4 linked regions of the Homo sapiens genome follow. The protein of the gene in region 3 purifies or fractionates together with the protein of the main gene of each other region. This does not show direct contact. Each region holds a gene or a part of one and is shown on either strand. Other genes may lie near its edges.

What was found.
Region 1: the proteins of TTC12 (region 3) and DNA2 purify together in Homo sapiens (affinity purification with mass spectrometry; one large-scale study listed by BioGRID and IntAct). This does not show direct contact.
Region 2: the proteins of TTC12 (region 3) and VSIG1 purify together in Homo sapiens (co-immunoprecipitation; one large-scale study listed by IntAct). This does not show direct contact.
Region 4: the proteins of TTC12 (region 3) and ALDH3A2 purify together in Homo sapiens (affinity purification with mass spectrometry; one large-scale study listed by BioGRID and IntAct). This does not show direct contact.

The regions. Positions count from the first base shown.
Region 1 is NC_000010.11:68,465,474-68,468,973, forward strand, and holds part of DNA2 (DNA replication ATP-dependent helicase/nuclease DNA2), read right to left. Parts: intron 2,834-3,500; coding exon 2,650-2,833; intron 340-2,649; coding exon 194-339; intron 1-193. UniProt on the Homo sapiens protein: Key enzyme involved in DNA replication and DNA repair in nucleus and mitochondrion.
Region 2 is NC_000023.11:108,066,215-108,072,564, reverse strand, and holds part of VSIG1 (V-set and immunoglobulin domain-containing protein 1 isoform 2 precursor), read right to left. Parts: intron 5,630-6,350; coding exon 5,431-5,629; intron 1-5,430.
Region 3 is NC_000011.10:113,362,827-113,369,218, reverse strand, and holds the end of TTC12 (tetratricopeptide repeat protein 12), read right to left. Parts: intron 5,392-6,392; coding exon 5,292-5,391; intron 4,385-5,291; coding exon 4,159-4,384; intron 2,995-4,158; coding exon 2,919-2,994; 3' UTR 2,832-2,918; downstream 1-2,831. UniProt on the Homo sapiens protein: Cytoplasmic protein that plays a role in the proper assembly of dynein arm complexes in motile cilia in both respiratory cells and sperm flagella.
Region 4 is NC_000017.11:19,653,860-19,660,251, forward strand, and holds part of ALDH3A2 (aldehyde dehydrogenase family 3 member A2), read left to right. Parts: intron 1-1,419; exon of another isoform or gene 1,420-1,528; intron 1,529-2,506; coding exon 2,507-2,715; intron 2,716-3,885; coding exon 3,886-4,003; intron 4,004-6,392.

The sequences.
Region 1 (3,500 bases), on a different chromosome or scaffold from region 3:
TTTTTACCCAAAAAGTTCCTGTTGAGCAATTTCAGAAACTCTTCACAGAGTTCCAACAATGTACTAGAACTATGAAATCTGCATTTTAGATTACACTAATTTATATTGGATAGTCTACACAAATACTTTATAGTTTCTAGGACAGAAGTTATATAATAAAATTATACCTGCAGTTCTTCTTATAACTACTTACATTTCCTTCAAATGTCTTATTTCTTGAATTGTTTGAAAAGCAAGTTCTTGTAGCTTTTCTGGGGCAAAGCTATTATTTATGGCTTTTTGAAACACCTCATGGAGAACCGTACCAATTAGCATTTGGCGTGTGGCTGGATCAGAGCTCTACAAAAGCAAATCACACAGTTTATTTCACAACATATTAACAGACACAATTGTATATTTATTACCTAATCTATTAAACCACCATAGCCAAAATGCACTGGTAAGACAAATGCCAAAATATTAAAAAAATTTTTTTCTGGTGCGTGGAATTATAAGTGACTTTCACTTTCTTCTATCCAGAATTGTCTGAATTACTGTATGAGTTATCCTTTTTTTTTTCTTTTTTGAGACAGAGTCTTGCTCTGTCACCCAGGCTGGAGCACAGTGGCACAATCTCAGCTCACTGCAACCTTCATCTCCCAGGTTCAAATGATTCTCATGCCTCAACCTCCCAAGTAGCTGGAATTACAGGTGTGTGCTATCATGCCCGGCTAACTTTTATTTTTTGTATTTTTAGTAGAGGCAGGGTTTCACCATGTTGGCCAGGCTGATATGAATTACTTTTAAAATCAATGTTCTCCATTTTGAAAAAAATTAAAATAACCAATATTTTAAAATTCAAAATATTCTCAAATAATTAATATTTAAAGTATTGTTCTCTTATTTCACTTGATAATCCACCCAATAGAAAAGTCAATAAAGGCATAGCTGATAAACTCATGTAAGTAAAAGATACCATTCAAACATAAAATGTAAACCTACTTAGCAGTAATGTTTGGGAAGAAAAAAAATTTTTTTAACCTACAGCAGAGATTTTTGGCAAGGAATTTTTCTCCACTCAAAAAGAAACACTACATTTCTTGATTAACTCTTGTATTAGCCTAGACCTTTTTTTTTTTTTTTTGAGACAGAGTTTCGCTCTGTCACCCAGGCTGGAGTGCAGCCGCGCGACTTTTGCTCACTGCAAGCTCCGCCTCCCAGGTTCACGCCATTCTCCTGCCTCAGCCTCCCGAGTAGCTGGGACTACAGGCGCCCGCCACCACACCCGGCTAATTTTTTTGTATTTTTAATAGAGATGGGGTTTGACCATGTCAGCCAGGATGGTCTTGATCTCCTGACCTCGTGATCCGCCAGCCTTGGCCTCCCAAAGTGCTGGGATTACAGGCGTGAGCCACTGCGCCCGGTCCAAAAAGTTTTTTAAAACTTAATATTCAGGCCAAGCACAGTAGCTCATGCCTATAGTCCCAGCTACTAGGGAGGCTGAGGTGGCCTGGGAGGTCAAGGCTTCAGTGACACACTGCACTCCAGCCTGGGTGACACAGTGAGACTCAAAATAAAATAAAAGTACGTTTCAAGAAAAATATATAAAAAGCTGGGTGTTGGGTACGATCATCTCTTTGTATGTTTGAAATAGCCCAAAATACATTTTTGTTTGTTTTGAGACGGAGTCTCCCTCTATCTCCCACCGTGAAGTGCAGTGGTGGGATCTCAGCTCACTGCAACCTCCGCCTCCAGGGTTCAAGCAATTCTGCCTCAGCCTCTCGAGTAGCTAGGATTACAGGCGCGCACCACAACGCCCGGCTAATTTTTGTGTATTTAGTAGAGACTGGTTTTCATCATGTTGGTCAGGCTGGTCTTGAACTCCTGACTTCATGAACTGCTCACCTCGGCCTCTCAAAGTGCTGGGATTACAGGCGTAAGCCACTGCGCCCAGCCCCAAAATACGTTTTTTTTTTGAGACTTTTTATTTTAAAATAAAACTGCATGTTTCAAGAAAAATAAATAAAAAGCTGGGTGTTGAGTACATGGGAGTTTATTACAATCATCTCTTTGTATGTTTGAAATAGTCCAAAATACATTTTTGTTTGTTTGTTTTGACACAGAGTCTTGCTCTGCCGCCCAGGCTAGACTGCAGTAGCATGATCTCGGCTCACTGCAACCTCCATCTCCCGGGTTTAAACGATTCTCCTGCCTCAGCCTCCTGAGTAGCTGGGACTACAGGTGCACGCCACCACACCTGGCTAATTTTTCTAGCAAAATACATTTTTTAAAAGCAGTTTGCACATTTATTTTTAGTTTAGTGGGAATCACATGAAGCCAACTTTGGAAATGTCTAGGTGTGTTTAAATTTAAAAGTTTATCATTTAAATTAATTTTCTTATTATAATTAGTTATTTTATTAAGCCCTGAACAAGATTCGAAGGACTCAGGCACCTGGCCTTTAGTCCTAGCACTGCCACCTCATAGTTATGTGGCTATGGGGCAAGTCACTTCACCTCTCTGAGCCCATTTTCCTCATCTATAAAATGCAGCTAATTAATACCATTTATTTTATAGGGTTGCTGGGAGGATTAAGTGAAATAATAAATGTAAAAGTGCTCTGTAAAACTCTCAGACCCTGCAGAAACATTAACTGTTACTATTATTTACCCTAAAAGTTTCACTCAGGACAGCTCTTCTCATACATCGAATACTACTGGCTATGCTGGTGCCAGAAATCAGCATGTCTGGATACAGAATCAAATATCCAAAATCTTTATCTATTATCCAAGTGTCAGATGTGCAGTCTCCCTCCAAATGAATGATATCTCCTGGCTCTACTGGAACAGAACACCTGAAAATAAAGCAAAGTTAAAGTATAAATACATAGCTTAGGTTCCTACATGTAAACGTATTAGGGAGGCTTCAAAAAAATAAATGAGTATTTTATCTGAAGAAGAAAAAAATATTTCTAAATTTCTGGGTCTTTAAAAAAAAAAATCAAATAGCAGGATACAGTCTTCTAAAACAACCCCTAGTTATTCTACCCCTTTCTATGTGTCAAACACATCTGAGAATACTCAAGGGTCTTCTATAAATCCCAAAGGGAAAACAACTTAGTGCCAGTAAAGTCTATTGCAAAAGCTATCAAAAAACCTTTGCTAATGTAATATATAGCTCCAATTATGAATTGGGTTGTTTTAATAATTTACTCTTTCTTAAGACTTTTAGGAAATCTACAGCTTGTATAAGTCTTGAAGCATGAAGCCAAATCCAGTGTAGCAAGAATAAAATCAAACTGAACTAGTTGAAACTAGGCCAGGCGCGGTGGCTCATGCCTATAATCCCAGCACTTTGGGAGGCCGAGGCAGGTGGATTCCTGAAGTCAGGAGTTCAAGACCAGCCTGGGCAACATGGTGAAACCCCGTCTCTACTAAAAATACAAAAATTAGCCGGGCGTGGTGGCGGACGCCTGTAATCCCAGCTACTTGTGAGGCTGAGGCAGGAGAATCGCTTGAACC
Region 2 (6,350 bases), on a different chromosome or scaffold from region 3:
AAAAAAATTCTTGGCCAGGCGCAGTGGCTCATGCCTGTAATCCCAGCAATTTGGAAGGCCGAGGTAGGTGGATCACCTGAGGTCAGGAGTTCGAGACCAGCCTGGCCAATGTGATGAAACACCATCTCTACTAAAAATACAAAAATTAGCTGGGCGTGGTGGTGGGCGCCTGTAATCCCAGCTACTTGGGAGGGTGAGGCAGTAGAATCACTTGAACCTGGGAGGCAGAGGTTGCAGTAAGCCAAGATCACGCCACTGCACTCCATCCTGAGCAACAAAGTGAGACTGGGTCTCCACACACACAAAAAAAATTATTAAAATGTATGTTGGCAGTTTTCTGCTTGCACCACCAGGTGGGAGTAGAGCACTTCAGGTGCAGGGCCCTTCTAGTCAAGAGGCCATTAAGATTCAAATAGTGACTCCTCTGTCTGCCTCCTCCTCAGATTTATAACCATGAATTTCCGCATTGTGTCTTAAAATATGCCTTTATTAAAACAGCCAAATATAAGCAAATACTAAATGACCAGGAATATAGTTTATGCTTTAAAAGCACAGTTTTAAAGGAAAATAGAATCCTTAAATACTCTGAGATAACCTATTATTCTTTTTAAAATATTTAATGCTGTATTTCTCTTTTCTCTCATGATTATTTTCTTTTTTTTTTTTTTTTTTGCATTTGTTCATCTGTGGGTGACACAAATAGTTGAAAGGTTTAAATTTGCCTGTGTGCATCATCAGTAGGGGAAGTCCATTTGGGGGGTGCACGCTACTCAGCACTGAAATATTTATTCATCCTTCACTCAGCAAGCACCCATGCCTTCTGTGGGCCTGGCATGGGACTAGGCACCAGGAATTCAAAAGTAACTTTCACACAGTTCTAAAGTGGGGTGGGAGAGGGATGAGAGATGACTTTAGAGAGGGGAAGAGGCCTCCAAGACCACAGCAGGAAGAACAGGTTTTAGGTGAAGGGGTGACAAGGAGGAAGGGGTACTAATGAGGTCAGTCCGGGACATAGAGTTTTAGCTGCTTATGAAAACATGTCAGGGGAGAAGTCCTGTGGGAAGCTGGGAATCTGAATCTCCTCATTCATCTTACTTACTTGCACGGTTTATTCTATCTTACATATCTTATACATTTATATATCTATCATATCTACATATCTATCTTATATCTCTTATCTTAGATATTTATTTTATATCTATACATCTATCTTATACACCTTATATATCTATCTTATATACAGACAATGATGTAAATTTCTATACTTTCCAACTCACCTTGCTTATCTTCATTTTGCTCTAGAACCCTTTAAAGCTTAGGTTCTCTAATTTAGGTGAGTTAGACATGAAATGTGTCATATTACTCAGTCCTACAGCTCTTACCTGAGACGCAGTGGTTAAGGGCACAGCTCTGGATCCACACAGAATACGGGCTTTGTAACTCTACCCTGGATCTGTATAGGCAAGTTACCTAACTTAGCCAAACCTCAGCTGACTCATCTGTAAAACGTGACTAAGAGATTATCTAACCTCTGGCTGATCCAAGTATTAAATACAATAATAAATATAGGGCCTAGAACCTGGAATTTCTGTTGGCCACAGCAGCACTAATTCCTGCTACTAAAGTTACTCTCCCATTGACTTCCGCTCAGTTCAGCCTTCCCAGACTCTCACTATCTGTACACAGGTGCGAGAAGACAGATGCATATAGCTATAATTCTTAAACAGTTTACTAGCCCTATCTTTTAAGCATGTGTCTTTTTAATTGAAAGGAATATCCTTCTACTTAGTTCTTTATTCTTTCTTATCAAAGATTTTCTCAGGTAGGAACAACTTGTTGGATGTGCCTATCCTAAACTAAGCTATTTAACCAGAAGTCCATTGCAGCTATCACTAGATTTAGATACTGCCTTTTTAAAAAGATGGCTATTGTATAGCCTTTACAGCAGAATAGAACAATTTGAACAGAAAATTAAATGGGGGTGTTTCATCACAAAGTTGGACACCAGGACTTGAACTAAATTATGGCAAAAACCTGGAATGACTTGCACTCATTTCTTGAGCCCAGAATCAAACCCAGATAGGCATTTTTTTTGCTTAGAATATTTTTCTCCTTTTATTTTTTATTAACAAAACATTTAGTGAATCACTTTGAACCAAGTCCCAAACCTATATATTTTCTAAAACTACTGACCCAGGATTGAACTGAAATTTCATCCAGTTAAAGTCCCCAGTGGAACTTGGGTATTTTACTGGCAAAGCCATTGATCTACCATTTAGCTTTATTGCTTTCAACAGAATTGGGGTGGGAGGAAAAGGCTCAGCTCAGAAAAAAAAAGAAAAAAGAAAAAACAAAGTGCTTCAGTAGGTTCTTAAACCTTCCCTAAATCAATCATTTTCTTTTTATGTGCCAAATTGCGGAAGGTAGATGATGCTCATTCCAAATGCACACAAAATAATTATTCAAACTTGATCTGGGTATTTTTCAGAGATTAATTTTCCAAGGTTGTCATACCTAATGGAAAGCTCTCAAATGAATGGCCATCCAAACCACCTGGTTCTTTGCCCATTGCTGTTTCCTTCACCTAAACTGTGCCTTGCCATCTCAGCCCCTCTTCTTCATCACACACTCTTGCACATCCTTCAACATTCAGCACAAAAGTCACTTTCCTCAATAAGCCTTCTCCAATTCCTGATACAGCTTTTTGCCCTTTCCCCTGTGCCCTCATAGCTCTCCTCTCATACCTCCACTGAAAGCTTTTATGTTACGCGTCTGTCTCCTTCACTAGACTGAATTTTAGAGGGCTAAGACCCTATCTTTTACATTTCCCCATGTCCATTGCTTAGCACAGTAACTGGCACGTGTGCTCAGGGTTTGTTAAATGAATTCATGCATGAACGAGTAAATGCATGGGATTGATGCTCACTGCTGGGTAACAAAACATCTGAAAGATACATTGCTATGAGAGTCATCTTTAAGGAAATATCAACACCTCTCCCCACAATTAACCTGTCTCTCTTACCCACCTGTCCCCATCTTGCCTCACCTTTCAGTCAGGGCAAGCAAAATTGTCACTCATATACAATGAGATTTGAGAATTGCAAATAGTCGCTGCAATTTTTAGAGAAAATTAGCAGTCTCAAATTTTCCAAAAAGCCTACATTTGGAGGAGGCCTTTGTTCTTTGCCCAATTAACAAAAACAATATTTTTTAGAGTTCCTAAACAAACAAGGAAATCCACAGACCCTTCTGCCTCTTACCTTGTCTGGATCCTGGCTGCTTAAGGAAAAGTCATGACACAGAGCTATCTGACACAAAGACTCATGGGAAAAAACACCTCTGAGATGAAGTGACCCTCAACTTCTTATGGAAATTGATTTGGGATCCTCTGAGCTTTAAATTTAAGAATATTAACCTTCTTGTCTAACTTTATCTCAGGGCTATTTCCAAGCTCTGAGATGAAGAGACTTGGCTTCTTTAGATTGTTTCTGGTCAGAACATCCCAGAACCAGGAAGCAACAGAAAATCATTAGCTAATCCCTCCAGTTTTTGAACATTTAAAAACCCCTTTGATCTCCAGTATTTCATTTTATAGGTAAAATAACAAAACTGTTCATAACAAACCTGTAAAGAAGACAGGGCAGAAATTATAACCCCATCTCACAATGGTCAGAGAAAGGTGGACTGACTTGTATAAGGTCACTGAGTACAGAGTAAGATCTAAAACTCAGGTCTTCTGAGTGCCAGTTTGATGCTTTGGCATTTATAGCACATCACTTAGTTCCCATGTATATAACTAACTAGTTGATATGGTTTGGATCTGTGTCCCCACCCAAACCTCATGTCAAATTGTAATCACTAATTTTGGCGATAGGGCCTGGTGAGAGGTGACTGGATCATGGGGGCGGATTTCCCCCTCGGTGCTGATCTTGTGATAGTGAATGAGTGCTCATAAGACCTGGTTGTTTAAAAGTGTGTGGCATCTTCCCCTCCCCTTCCTCCTGTTCCAGCCATGTGAGACATCTTGCCTCCCCTTTGCTTTCTGCCATGATTGTAGTTTCCTGAGGCTTCCCAAGAAGCTGCTATGCTTCCTGTACAGCCTGCAGAACCGTGAGACAATTAAACCTCTTTTACTTATAAATTACCCAGTCTCAGGTATTTCTTTACAGCAATGCAAGAATAGACTAATACACTAGTCTTCCAAACTGAAACAGAAACTCTCCCAGGAATTTGCTTGAGTAATACTTCTCTTGTCTGTTCCTGTACCCCAATTCCTGGCACAGAACTCAGTAAGATAAAAATATGATTGATTAAGCTAACCCACTCTTAAAAAATAGCTCTTAGGTACCTTTCCCTCTTTCCCAGGTGGGTAGATGCAGTGGCAAACCTCACAGTAAATGTCAGCTGGTTCCTTTGTGGCATTACCTGAGTGGCAAGCCAGGACAACTGTAAACAGTTCTCTTGGGTATGCACCTTGTTACCAATTGCTGCTTTTCCAAGCTACTCAACTATTAAGTCACTGATTTGATGTAGTTCCTCCTTTCTTGTGATGTGTGCACACAGCTTGAGAGCAGCAATGACTAGATCAGCTTCATTTGGGGCTACCTAGAAGTGGGAAAATGCTCATCTCAACTGGTCTGTCTGTAAGAGTTGAGGATTGGCAGCCCTTTCATCCCTTGCTTCGATACTTCCCAATACCAGCCTGCAGATGGAAGTTTAGCCCACATTGTCCTCTCAGACAGAGATTGTAAGGACTTCTAGAAATGGCCAAAATTGGGAGCTTCCCAAGGGCAAAAACAACACCTCCATCACTGTAACTCAATAAATACTGAACAAATGAGATTCCAAATTCATTTTAAGAGCAGATACGGCTTGCCCAATATCATATAATGAATATTTGTATGTAAATATGTTGATTCTCAACACTAGATTAATTTCAGTCCTTTTTCCAAATAACATTAGCATTTTAAAAAAGGGACTCTCCTGTCTTTATTTAAAAGAATAATTTAATGGTGGGAATTGTGTCGAGCTTAAAAGGAATAATAAGTTGACAGTAGTCTCCCCCAGGTAGATCTGGCTGTAAATGGAGGTTTCCTCTAAAAGAGTTGCTAGTGATCATTTTGTGGGACAGTGGATTGTCTCATCTGTTCTCATTCCATCCCTCAGAGATAGGGATCACTGGAGGTTGGGTCATCTACTGCTGTCATTTTGGCAGCCCGTTTGCACAATTGTTCTGCATGTTTTATGAGTGATTTCTCAGTGTTACTGTTTTGGTTGGGCTGGTGGCTTGTCTCTATTTCCCTGATAATGAAAATATTAGGGAGTATATTTACCTACAGAGACTTAATTGGCATCATAACTCACTGTCCTGGCTCATTCAGTGTCCTAACTTTTTCCAAGAAAAGAAAAAGCAGAAAAAAGTGCTCATACCTAACACACTGACGTTGAGGATGCCTTGGTTTTGGCCGAGAAAGTCTGGGGGGTTGTTAACATCGCAGATGTAAATTCCACTGTCTGCTGGCTGCATATGCGAGATAGTGATAGATGCATTACCTGGATCGTTGGACCCTGTAATTCGATCTTTAAATTGCCCGATGGCTACAGCTTGTCCACCTTGAGAAAAGTAAATCTAGACAGAAAAATAACAGAAGTGAGAACTGGAGAGAGTCCAGGACTAGGATAAGCTACCTGAAAGCTTCTTCTAAACACATTACCTTTGATAAAGAAGCAGCATCTTCCCCCCACCAGGAACAGGTCCCTGTGGCCAAGGTTTCTCAACTCAGTGGGGCACTTTAGTTTGCTCACAGCTGCGCATTTGGCCCTCAGAGCAGCTCTGTGATGTCATCAGGGCAGGGATTAGTATGCCTATCTTACAGAGGAGGAGGCAGCTGGAGCTGACAGGATTCAACACCTAAGCTTGGGCTAGGAGATCAAGATGCTCACTTAATGAATCCACCTGAGAGAAACTCATTATGTAGAACACAAATGTCTGATGGGAAACCAAAACCATCATTTTTTTTTTTTTACCATTTTATAAACTTCTTAAAATTTGAATTTACCTTACCCAGTGAGACTATCTGGTTTCCTTAAATGTTCAAATGTTCATGCTCCTTTTAGACACACCTACTCTTTTGGATAGACAAACTTGGGTTTGTTTTGTTTATTAGAAGCAAAGCGGAAAAGCATCTTAGAAATCATCTGGTCCCATCCCTTTATAGTGGTGTTGTGAAGATGAAACTAAGAAATCTAGTAAAGGACCTCGGAAGTGCTCAGCCAATGATAGCTACCATCTTTCTCCCCATGTGGCAGAAGGCAGAACTGGAATTCTTCTGTCATTTAAACAAATAAGG
Region 3 (6,392 bases):
GGAGGCAGAGGTTGCAGTGAGCTGAGATCACACCACTGCACTCCAGCCTGGCCGATAAAGTGAGGCTCTGTTTCAAAACAAACAAACAAACAAACAAACAATGCACAGGCAGGCTTTATTCTTTCTCTCTGCGTGTCTGCAGGATGCCAGTCTATGAGGACCAAAAGCTCATTCCCTGGGAAAGGGAGTCAGCTCTAAATGGGTTTTCTTCACCTCTGATTATTCTCTCCTGTAACGGAACCCTTGGAGAGCCTCTATTTTCAAGTTATTTAGAAAATGAGACCTCTTACTTAAAAAAAGTCATGTGGTATTAAATGTCTTCTTGTCCTCAGAATATTAGGTTAGTGCAAAAGAAATTGCAGTTTTTGTCATTACTTTTAATGGCAAAAACTGCAATTAGTTTTGCACCAACCTAATACTTCTTAGTCATACTTCCCCTCAGTTCTCCAAGCCAAGAAGCTCTTATTTGAACCTATCCTTAAAAAAGTGTTTACAATAGCAGCCCGTGACCTGTTGCAGCATCTCAGCCCCTTCCTATTGTTTCCTCTCAACTCTGAACCTCAGTCCCACCTTGCGGCGCACTGGAACCACCGTCCTCACGTCATGTATGAAGACAGTGAGCAGCTCTGGACTGTCTGTTACCTGCCACCTCTGCTGTGGCTTCAGGATGGTGATGGAGTTCCATCCCGGCCACATCCTCTTTAGGATGGAAAATCCCAGCTCCTCTGCTTGTTGAACCAGAAGACTCTGATTACCTGGAACAAGCCGTGTCTCCAAGGGTGGTGTCGGGGCTCCTGGCAAGTGGAGATGAGGCCTTCTGAAAGATGGCGCTGGTATTTTCCATGCTGCCTGGAAGGTCTGCATGGTAGCATGTGTTAGGGGTAACAAGTTTGGGGCGGTGGCGGGGGTGGATCCACACTGGAGAGGGAGAATACTAGCATGTGAAACATCTCTTCCCACCTGCGAGGAGACAGAGCTTCAGGTGCAGCAGACTCTCTTCCAAATTGGAGATGACTGCTCTCGGCAGGCACTCTGGAACAATAAACATAATAACGTAATTTGACATTCCCCACTCTTTGGGGAAGAGAATACACCTATCATAGCCATTTTCAAGAGCCAAGAAGGAGGGCAGCCATAGCAGGGGAAGGCGGGGCCTGAACTTCAAAGGAGACAGGGCTGGTGGTTATGAACACAAACAGCCTTTCCGTTTTCAAAGCTCCACGGAATTCTGTGAAAACAGCAACTTTTGCACCCTCTAATTTTCTTCTTTGTGCTCTGATTAGCATCGAGCCGTTCTCCCTTTGCAATTCAGTAGCCTCTTGAAGGGTGTTTGTTTGCATGATAGGACTGATGGGCAGGTCCTGGCTAGTGGCCTGTCACTTGCTTGCCACCCAGGGCGCCACCACAGAGTGCCCCAGTGAGCTCCCTCCAGCCATGCGCAGTACATCAATCTGAATGAGGGGCTCAGGCCATTGATTTTCTTCCACCGCCCACCCCCGTCACCAAATGCCAATTATTTATCTCCGTTTCAGAAACGAAGTTCTTAATTTAAGCCAACAGCTGCCTTACCTGTGAAGAACACTTTCTTTGGGTGTGTTGAATAACATCTCCCTGGAGGAGGAGGATTTCCTTTCCTACATGCTTCAGAGAATGGCCAGCTTGATTCCTTAAAGGACATGAGCTTCATCCTTTCCCAGACCCTTCAAACTTAACCCAAATGACGTCATAGTTGACACCCTCAATCTCAAGATAGAGTCTGGTAATCTCTTATATTTGCGTAGTACTTTATAATTCCCAAAGTGCCTTCACCTCCAAAACTTCATTTAACCTTTACAACAATGGAGGAGGTAGGTTGGGCAGGTATTAGTGTTTCCAGAAGCAGTAGCCAAAGCTCAGAGAGGTTAAGCAACTTGCCCAAAGTCACATGGCTGGCAGGGCAGGTAGCAGGGTACGACCAAAAGTCTTTGGAACTTTGGTCTGGGACTCCTGACATTCACTGTACCATGAAGACCCTGCCTCCTACTCTAAAATGATTCTGTGATTGTAAGGAGCCAGAGATAATGCCACTTATTGGACTTCTCACTTAGGGACTTGCAGTCCACAGGTGACCCTGGTTTAGAGTGACCCTGGGGCAACTGGAAGGGAGCGTTGCCTCTGGGGATGGGGTGAGAGTACAAGGTGGGTTAGGGAAATCAACACATTTGCATCAGTCAGGGTTCACTGTAGAAAGAGAAGCCTGTGCTTTGGCACCTTTAGCAGAGAACAATCTAACCCATGGAACAGGGTGCCTATAGCACCACCAGATGGGCTGGAGGAGGGTGCCAGAGGGACCCCCAGGAATGATTCCCAGAATGATTCACGCAGAGTTCTCCTAACAGGGGAGACACCACCTACCACTCACCCCACTGAATTTAACGGCACATGCAGTGGCTGCAGGCCAGGAGTCAGCTGCAGGCCACCAATGATGCCAATGCAACTCTCTCTCAGCACTCCACAGCTGGAAAAACGGAGCTGAAATGCTGCTACCAACAAATCTGATGTTTCTAGCATATTGCCAGCAGAAAATAGCAAAAGGGGTAGGAAGTGGCATTAGATTGGCCACTAGTTCCCATCTAGAATCGTTGCTACAAGGGAGTCTGGGCAATGTGGCTTTTTGTGAGATGGTTTCTAGCTTCTACAGAACAGGAAAGAACATTCAAAGGAGGGTACAATGGAAGTCGAGTAAGCCAGTGCACAGAGCCCACCACAGCAGCCAGCCTAATGCCCACTCTCTTGTTACCCGTGAAAACCTGAAATGCAAACACTCTAAAAATGAGTACTTGATTCTGAAGTGGATACATCAAAGGTCTTTATTAGCATAGGAACAACACACGGTGTGCATCTGTGTGTTCCCCAAATGCACACAAACCCTGTCTCTCTCAAGAATCACTGATGTATTTCATCGTAGAGTTGAGAATTTCTAGGCCATGAAGCTTTCTCAGTTGAGCAGCAAATCTGTCACAATCAAAACAAACAACCCAGGGCATAAGTGCCACGGTTCAGGCTTCTGGAGCCCAGAGCCAACACCCTCTCAGATGGAAGCTGGCTGAGAACGTCAGTCCTATCACTCTGGGTGGAAACAGGAAGTGGCTGTGGCATTGGGGTACCCTAAAGATCACAGGGGTAAGTAAGACCCTCAGGGAGGCCCACAAAGCACTGAAAACACTCGCTGCAGGTGGCAGGTGTGTCAGGCTGATCAGACAGGACCTTGCTCTCGAGAACTCCCCCATAGGTTGCCACTTTGAAGTCATCCTAGCTAATGTGCTTTCTTTCTATAGAAGAAAGATTTTAACTATTCCTTCCATTTGAACAACCAGACAGAACTTGAAAGGACCTTAGATATTATCAAGGCCAACCCCCTCAATCTACAGAGGAGGAATTAAAGGCATGTGGATGTAAGGGAAGGAGCCTCTCTCACTCAGCTCCCGGGGTTACCCTTGCTCTATGCCAGGGCTCCTTTGCTCAGCCACAGGTGGACACCTCCCAAAAGCACGTGCAATGAGATGCGTCTGCACATCAGAAGAGGAGCAGAGCAGAGTGGAGGTCTGAGCTAACAGAGAAGCCATGGGCACAGTTACAGCCCACATCTCTTGCCCTCGCTCACTGGGGACCTCGGCATGCTGTTCTGCGTCTCTCCTTCTCCACTGTTTTCTCCTGCATGAACATGTGACCCTTGCTGGCCGTTCCTCCATTTGTTTAGGCTGAGGCAAAGAACATGAAGTGGGGGGTCTGTTTCTGGAAAAGTGGAGAAGAGAGAAAAGAGGGAAGAGAAGGGGAGGTGGAGTGGGAGGGAGGGGAAGAAGGAGGATAAAGAGACAGGGAGAGGGATGCAAAACAGTGGAGAATGGAATGGAGAGAAGGCAACGGCAGCAAGTGGGAGCAGCACGTCCCTGTCAGACAAGCCGATTCCCTCTCTGGTTGGAGACCGAGAGCTCCCCAGTTTCCTCTAGAAAGGCTTTCTTCAGAGAAGCAGCTACTGGGCTTAACCTAGGTCTGCACAGAAAGCATGAGGGCTTCCCACACTGTTCTGTGTGGCATGCAGTCCCAGCCAAAACTCAGCACCTCAGCTCAGCTGCTCTTTCTGCAATAGGTCAGCCTGGCTCCGTGTCCACAGCATACCTGGGCTCAGCTGTGCACAGCTTCCCCAGAGCAATGCCTGCGTTCACCTGCACGGCCGTCTTCTGTGTGTCACTGCCTGCAAGCTTTAACAAGACCTGCAAAAGGTCCGTCTTTAGCAGGGAAGACGCAACGTTGGGCACCTCCATGCAGTTACCAAGGCAGAGGGCAGCGTTGCCCACCAGAACCTCATCCTCCGAGCTGAGCAGCTTCATCATAACGCTCAACTCTGCAGGGAAAGAAGAGAACAAGCAACAGCTCCTTTTAATCCCAAAATAGGAGGCTGGCAACAGGACATGAGGGGTGCAGGGAGATGTCAGCGGACACCGAGCTTCCCCAGTAACTCTGCAGCAGAACTTGTTCACTTACTCATCAGCAAACATTCACTGAATGCATATGAACCTCCTCAACTCCTTGCTGAACCTCTGAAGTATCTCCGCTTCCTAGAACAGTGCCCAGCACAACACAGTTGTTAGATGAATGAATGCTGTGTGTCAGACAGGTCTGTCTTCTTGAAAGCCTATTCTTAACCTCTCACTGCGCCAGGGTGAGAGGTCTTATCTGACAGCCCCCAGGTGGAGGCAATGTGCCAGCAACCTACACCTGCAGGGTATGCAACAGGATCCAGGAGAAAGGCTTGCCGCTTCCATGGTGGAGCCTCCTTCAGTTCACCTTCTGTGCATTCCAGGGAGTTGGTAAGAAGAACATTAGCAGGCTGCCTCTCCTGGGAAGCCTGCTGTGAATAACTACAGCCGGTTTAAGTTACTGGACTAAACCTAGGCTCAGACTCTGATATTTCCCTTGTTCACTAAACGTTGACGGTGTTTCCCCCTCTCCTTCTGTGAAGGCAGAGAACTGAACTTGGTGAGAGGAGGGAGTTTCCTAGCTTTGACCCTGTTATCTTTGAGCCATCTGTCAGCTGGGTCTCCAGCCTGGGCATTCTACCTGTGTGCATCCAAAAGGTTAATTAAATGCTTTCAGATCTGGATGTGAAACATCTTCTGTAAACATTGCTGAAGTCTGGGAGAGGTTAACAGCATTGCTGCTAAGTTCCTCCTCGACCACAGTTCCCTTTGCAGCTTCAAGGGTGGATGAACCTCTGGGACAAGGGCTCCCTTAAGGAAATCATCACTTACTTTTATCCAGTCTTATTACTTCTTCCCGAGCTTCATGATAACTATTCGTGCAGATAGCTAGTATCTTTATAGCATAACGTGATGCAGTCTCACCTCCTGTCTAGATTTCAGAATGAAATTAGAAAAATAAAATCAGTGCTATGATTGCTCTTGACCACAAACCACAGCAAGCAGTTATTATAGCGCTAGTGGCTTCCTAAACTCTGAAAAGAGAATTCTACTGAGAACGGCATGTGCTTCCTGGTGGGCAGGCATGGTCCCTGCTGGAACAGAGTGTCACCCGCATCCTCTCTAACCCAGCCCACACCCCTGACAGGAATGTAGGCCTGTCATGTACACCTGAGTAATTGCCTCCGGAAGGCTTTATGAGCAAGTGGCTGAGAAGAGAATGATGCTGATGAATGGCAGATCTACCAAAAAGGGAGGAAAAGGCCCTCCCATGTCATTTTCCCATTTGAGAACGAGGACTGACTTGCTAAGGCTGTCAGGCTGACAGTCCTGCATGAGGAACTTCAGGAACCTACATCATTTTAAGAGATGACAACTGTCAAACACAGCCCTTGCAATCACCCATGTGGGGTCTTTAAAAGGCATGTGTGCACGTATGCACGTGTGATGCATGGGTATGCATGCCATCAGGAGCTTTTGGTGGGTTTGCAAAAGTTATAATGAATGACAGTCATTGTTCAAGTGGCAATCTAAACTCAGACCCCCTGTGCTGCCCCCTCAGTGTCACCCCTGCCCTAGCAGCAGCCCGCAGAGCATGCTTCCCTGCGCCACTCAGCCTGATGCTTTATGAATAAAAGCCATGTGTCACCACACTAACATGGGTGTATGGACCTCATGGGCACACACATCATAGGTGGGATTCTGAGATGGCAGCCTAGTGTATTAATCCCCTTCGCCCTTGCAGGTGAATCCAGATAACTGCTCTACTGGCTTGCTTAGATTCACCACACTCATCTCACAGGGAAATCCCAACATCCTTTGGTCACATGGTAATTCTGCAGGCTACATGTCTCATAGATGGAGTTCCATCCAACACTCTCCAGATAACTGTATAAAGCATCATGAGTAGCAAAACCTGAGCAGAACAATGTG
Region 4 (6,392 bases), on a different chromosome or scaffold from region 3:
AGAGCTGATTGGTCCGTTTTGACAGGGTGCTGATTGGTGCGTTTACAATCCCTGAGCTAGACACAGAATGCTGATTGGTGCATTTACAATCCTCTAGCTAGACATAAAAGTTCTCCAAGTCCCCACTAGATTAGCTAGACACAGAGCACTGATTGGTGCATTTACAAACCTTGAGCTAGACATAGAGTGCTGACTGGTGCTTTTACAATCCTCTAGCTAGACATAAAAGTTCTCCAAATCCCCACCAGATTAGCTAGATACAGAGTGCTGATTGGTGCATCCACAAACCCCAAGCTAGACACAGAGTGCTGATTGGTGCATATACAATCCTCCGGCTAGACATAAAAGTTCTCTAAGTCCCCACCCGACTCAGGAGCCCAGCTGGCTTTGCCTAGTGGATCCCACGCCGGGGCTGTGGGTGGAGCTGCCCATCAGTCCAGCGCTGCGCGCCTGCACCCCTCAGCCCTTGGGCGGTCGATGGGACTGGGCGCTGTGGAGCAGGGGGCGGCGCCCATCAGGGAGGCTCGGGCAGCATGGGAACCCACCAGGGGCGGGGTGGGGGCCTTGGGCATGGCGGGCTGCAGGTCCCGAGCCCTGCCCTGCGGGGAGGTGGCTGAGGCCCGGCGAGAATTCGAGTGTGGCGCTGGTGGGCTGGCATTGCTGGGGGACCCGGGGCACCCTCCTCAGCAGCTGGCCCAGGTGCTAAGCCCCTCATTGCCCAGGGCTGGCGGCGCCGGCCAGCTGCTCCGAGTGTGGGGCCCATTGAGCCTGCGCCCACCCAGAACTCGCTCTGGCTTGTGAGCGCCACGCGCAGCCCCGGTTCCTGCCTGCGCCTCTCCCTCCACACCTTCCCACAAGCAGAAGGAGCCGGCTCCAGCCTTGGCCAGCCCAGAGAGGGGCTCCCACAGTGCAGCTGTGGGCTGAAGGGCTCCTCAAGCGTGGCGAGAGTGGGTGCCAAGGCCAAGGAGGTGCTGAGAGCGAGCAAGGGTTGCCCGCACGCTCTCACCTCTCACCCAGCCTATAAGAGTACTTCTGCTTTCAAAAAAGACATGTCTGTGGCATGAAAACATGCCACACATACACAAAAAGTGCCCTCCTGAACTAGAGGGCAGATCCTCACACTGACTTAACATGCTGGCATTTAAGAATATCAAGAACTGAATAAAGAAAATGATCTGCCCAACTGCGGGTAGTTCATCTGTCTGAGTCAGAGGTTCTTATGCCTTCCTGGGGAGGAAGTTATGATGCCGCGAAGAAATTGGCACTGCTGAGTTCTACATGCAGTTGCTACAGGGAGGAGTCTTCATTTAGCTTTAAGCGAAATACAGCTTAAAAATATCTTACCTGTATTCTGTACATCAACTTGTGATGGATTGAGGCCAGTTCTGGTTCTTGGAATGATATTTTTCTCTTTGTTAGAGCCATTTTGTTCTAATAGCTGTGATGATCCAATCAAGAAAGATGAAATGGAAGACAGTGAGATGTCAAGGATTGAATAGGACGTAGAACCAGAAGATAGAGGTTGAAGGTACCGCTTTGCCCCTGACCAGGGGTAAATTCTTCAATAACTGACTCTGTCCGGATAAGGAGGATAATAATGCTCTACCAGCTTCAGTTACCGTGTTAGGGGATCAATAATATATGCTATGTAGATTAAGCCATAGAAAAGTTAAAGCTTGAAACATTTGTTGGGCAGCTGAACCATGAAGTGAATGAAATTAATTCGCCTTCAAGTGGAAACATGAGATCCACAAGCCAGCTTTTACTTCACACTTCCACCTTGGAGTCTTGAATACCTCTCTGTCTTCCTTGCTTGCCATCTGTTCTCTTACTTTTGATGCTGTTATTGTCCAAGATGTTCTCTCTTAGAATAGCTGGTAATGATAGCACAATGCATAGATGGGCTCAGTCCACAGAAGCTACGTGAATTCTCCCAGTAACAGATGAGGAAATTGAGGCTCAGAGATGTTCAGTAGCTTGCCTAAGGTTGCATAAGCTAGTGAGTGGCAGAGCCCAGATTCAAACCAGATACACTTCAAAAGCAAGCGCTCTCAGCTACTGTGCCGGATATACCATTCATTCAGAATAGCGTGGGCTAAGCCCACTCTGTGTTGTGAGACAGAGAACATTCAGACTAAGACATGCATGACCTGTCCTGTGGGAGCCACTCTTCACCAGAGGCACTTCTGCACACACCCGCGTCTCATGCATTTTCCCTGGTCAAATTCAACCATTTGTTCTCCTTAGTGTCTTTGTTGCTGAGCTCATGTAAAAAAACACTGGAGTCTCCAGATTAGTTCTATGTGGGTTCATGCTTCCCAGATGCCATCGGACTGTGTGTTCTCCTCTTGTCCTTGGTCAGTTCCCTCTCCCATCCCTCACAGGGACTGGTCTTGACACTCTCTGGGTTTTACTGAATGTTACATGTTTATGTTGAAGAGATTGCTGATGTTAGACGTTAGGATTTATTTGGCAGTGCAAGAGTTTGTGTTTCTCTTTCTTTGAGGATCTCTATATTGTTATTAATGGTGGTGTTGAGGAAACCACGGAGCTCCTGAAGCAGCGATTTGACCACATTTTCTATACGGGAAACACTGCGGTTGGCAAAATTGTCATGGAAGCTGCTGCCAAGCATCTGACCCCTGTGACTCTTGAACTGGGAGGGAAAAGTCCATGTTATATTGATAAAGATTGTGACCTGGACATTGTTTGCAGGTGAGTCTGGCTCTCTGATTTTCTGAGGTTTTCCCAGCACAATGGAGACTTTTCCTGACAATGTTACTCTTTGTACTTGAACCCCATACCTTATGGCTCCAAGATACATTATTAAGCTTTGGTGGTTGATGTCCTCAAGAGTAACAGGAGTCTTTCACTGTCTCTTGGCGCCACTGTCAAAAATGGTGAGCTGTAAGTCCTGACATCATGTGGTTGTCCTTAGGAATTTTAAAAAAGTTATATCTGTTCTCAAGATTACAGCTAGATCTAGCAAGAAATTTTAACGTTCTTCTGGCCAGTGATCTGTGAAGTACATAATCCAAAGTATTGTGTGTGCCTAATAAAATCTTTAAATGCCCATTTGAGAGGGTATTATGCTGATATCTTAACTGAGATCCTTTGTGGGCAAAACAAGTGTTCCTCATTTTTTAACTGTGAATAACATCTTGCATCTGAAAATTAGAAAATAAGAGGTTTCAGGTTCTCTCTGCTAAATCCGGTTTAGCTACTAAGAAGTGCCAAATCATAGAACTGACTCTGTGCTCTGGGTGGTGTGGCTTTCTCTGCCCTTCAGAGATTCCAGGTCAGGGTTCCAGGTTGGCTTCCTAAGTAGAAATCCATTTGTCAAAACCAGACACCCTCAGTTAGTGAATGTTTAGGGCATGGGTTTCTGCCCATGCATAGGAAAGGTCTTCCCAAGTGGGGCAGGGCTCCACAAAGAGGAGGATGGCCTTGGAGGCTGGCTGACATCCTGCTTTATACCTGAACATCTTGCAGGCAGAGCCAAAAGCCACAACCAGGAGAGTCTGTACCGAACTCTGGTCATCCAGGACTTTCCTTTGGCTGGACTGGAAGAGGGGAAAGGACATTGGGAGGCTGTTTCTCCTCTTTTCCTGCAGCAGGCAATGGCTTCACTGTTTACCAAGTACTGTTTGCCGTGAGCTGGCCTGAGAACTTCCCTGCTATGTAAAATATTCCACCTCATTTGGAAAATACTTTCTAAGTTCCAAACAACTGATTTAGAAATGAGTTTTTAACTTTTTTATAAAAATTGCCAGATAAATATATGAATCTATTTTAGTTGCAAGACATTCAAACAACACAATGTAACAAATGAATATTTGACTGAATTACTGAATTATATAGCTGTTCTGGATGTTTTCCCCTCAGACGCATAACCTGGGGAAAATACATGAATTGTGGCCAAACCTGCATTGCACCCGACTATATTCTCTGTGAAGCATCCCTCCAAAATCAAATTGTATGGAAGATTAAGGAAACAGTGAAGGTTTGTATTAAAAACATCTGATTCCACTGATTTTAATAAGATAAGGAGTCAAATTAACTATTCGCAGGCAGCATCCCCATTTGTTTCTCCCTTCAGGAAAATTTCAAAATCATATGTGACTCAGTGAACTTATTGACTAATATGAAAATGCTATGTGTACCATAGAATATATGCTGGGAGCAAGGTTGCATTGGTGTTAAATCTACTTAAACTGTCTAGTTGATTTGTTGATGATTAGTTGTGGCATATACTTTTTTTAAAAAAGTTAAATAATCGTGTGTCCGTGGTTTTGAGGGAATGTTGCCAACCCTTTAGGTATAATCAGAGAGACTCTTTGGCATATTGGCCATTGCTGCTGAAGGTTATCAGTTTTTGTGTATGTAGAGGGCCTAGGGTGGCCAGTAGTTTGGAGGAGTGACTTAATTAAATAACTACTTACAGTATACCCTTTATATAATTAACAATCTTTCAGCGTGTTTAAAGTAAATATTTGCAGTGAGGGAACCAAGGAAGACTGCATGTAGAGTCCTAAGCCAAGACTTGAAGAAATATAGGATTTAAGTTGGTAGAAAGGAATGGGGGCTGGGCACGGTGGCTTATGCCTGTAATCCCAGCACTTTGGGGGGCCTAGGGGGGCAGATCACTTGAGGTCAGAAGTTCAAGACCAGCCTGGCCAATATGGTGAAACCCTGTCTCTACTAAAAATACAAAAAAATCAGCCGGGGATGGTGGTGCATGTCTGTAATTCCAGCTACTCAGGAGGCTAAGGCACGAGATTTGCTTGAACCCTGGCAAGAATCGCTTGAACCCGGGAGGCAAAGGTTGCAGTGAGCCAAGATCACGCCACTGCACTCCAGCCTGGGCGACAGAGCAAGACTCTGTCTTTAAAAAAAAAAAAAAAAAGAAGAATGGGATGACCAAATGACCAGTGTGACTGAGTTCAGCAGTGGGTGAGGATCATTAACCCCTCAGATGAAAGAAATTATTGGAGCAGTCACTGTTTACTCGACAGATGTTAATTGAGCACTAAAAGGAAGGATCAAAAACACCAAAGAGTAATGCATGTGATCTGAAAATGAAAATTGTTGGCCAGACATGGTGGCTCACGCCTGTAATCCCAGCACTTTGGGAGGCCAAGACAGGTTGATCACTTGAGGTGAGGAGTTAGAGACCAGTTTGGCCAACATGGCAAAACCCATCTCTACTAAAATTACAAAAATTAGCCGGGCATGGTGGCACGCACCTATAATTCTAGCTACTTGGGAGGCTGAGGCACAAGAATTGCTTGAACCCGGGAGGTGGAGCTTGCAGTGAGCCAAGATCATGCTACTGCACTCCAGCCTGGGTAACGGAATGAGATTTTATCTCAAAAGAAAAAAAGATATGAAAATTGTCGCCGTTGTGGTGGTTCACTCCTGTAATCCGAGCACTTTGGGAGGCTAAGGTGGGAAGATCGCTTGAGCCCAGGAGTTCAAAACCAGCCTGGTCAACATAATGAGACCCTGTGTCTACAAAAGAAAAAAAGGTTAGCTGGGTATGGTGGCACATGCCTGTAGTCCCAGCTACTCAGGAGGCTGAAGCCAGAAGGATCACTTGAGCCCAGGAGTTCAAGGCTGCAATGAGCCATTATTGCATCACTGTGCTCCAGCCTGAGTGACAGCATAAGACTCTGTCTCAAAAAAACAAAAAAAGAGAAAATTGGCTGGGCACAGTGGCTCACTCCTGTAATCCCAGCACTTTGGAAGGCCAAGGCAGACAGATCACTTGAGGCCAGGAATTCAAGACCAGCTGGGCAACGTAGCAAAATCTTGTCGCTACAAGAAATACAAAAATTCAGGTGTACCGGCGTGTACGTGTGGTCCCAGCTACTTGGCAGGCTGAGGTAGGAGGATCGCTTGATCCTCCTGGGAGGCGGAGGCTGCAGTGAGCCAAGAATGTGCCACTGGACTCCAGCCTGGGTGACAGAGTGAGACCCTGTCTCAAAAAAAAAAAAAAAAGAGAAAATTATGTACCAGGAAGTTCAGGACAATAGTTCACTATGTGTTCCAGGCAGAGTAACTTGGGGGATGAGGTGCTAGGGTCTTGACATGGAAATTGGACTATCATTTTTAGTCATAGGACTAAAAATGGATCCAGATGAGCACATGAAGGGAGAGTTGCCCAGATTCAGGGTATGTGGGAAGAGAGAGTGGTTAAAGATACTTGTGAGATTGAAAATATTTGGGAATTGGAGAATGCTTAGTTGAGTGTGGTGATGAATTCAATTTCAAAGGAATAAGGGCCTCTGCCTCCCTTTGAGGCATTTATACTCTTAACACAGTGGTTCTCAAGCTACATGTTACCCTAGTGAGCCATTTAAAAACAAGTTTGCAAGCCTTACCCTCCAAAG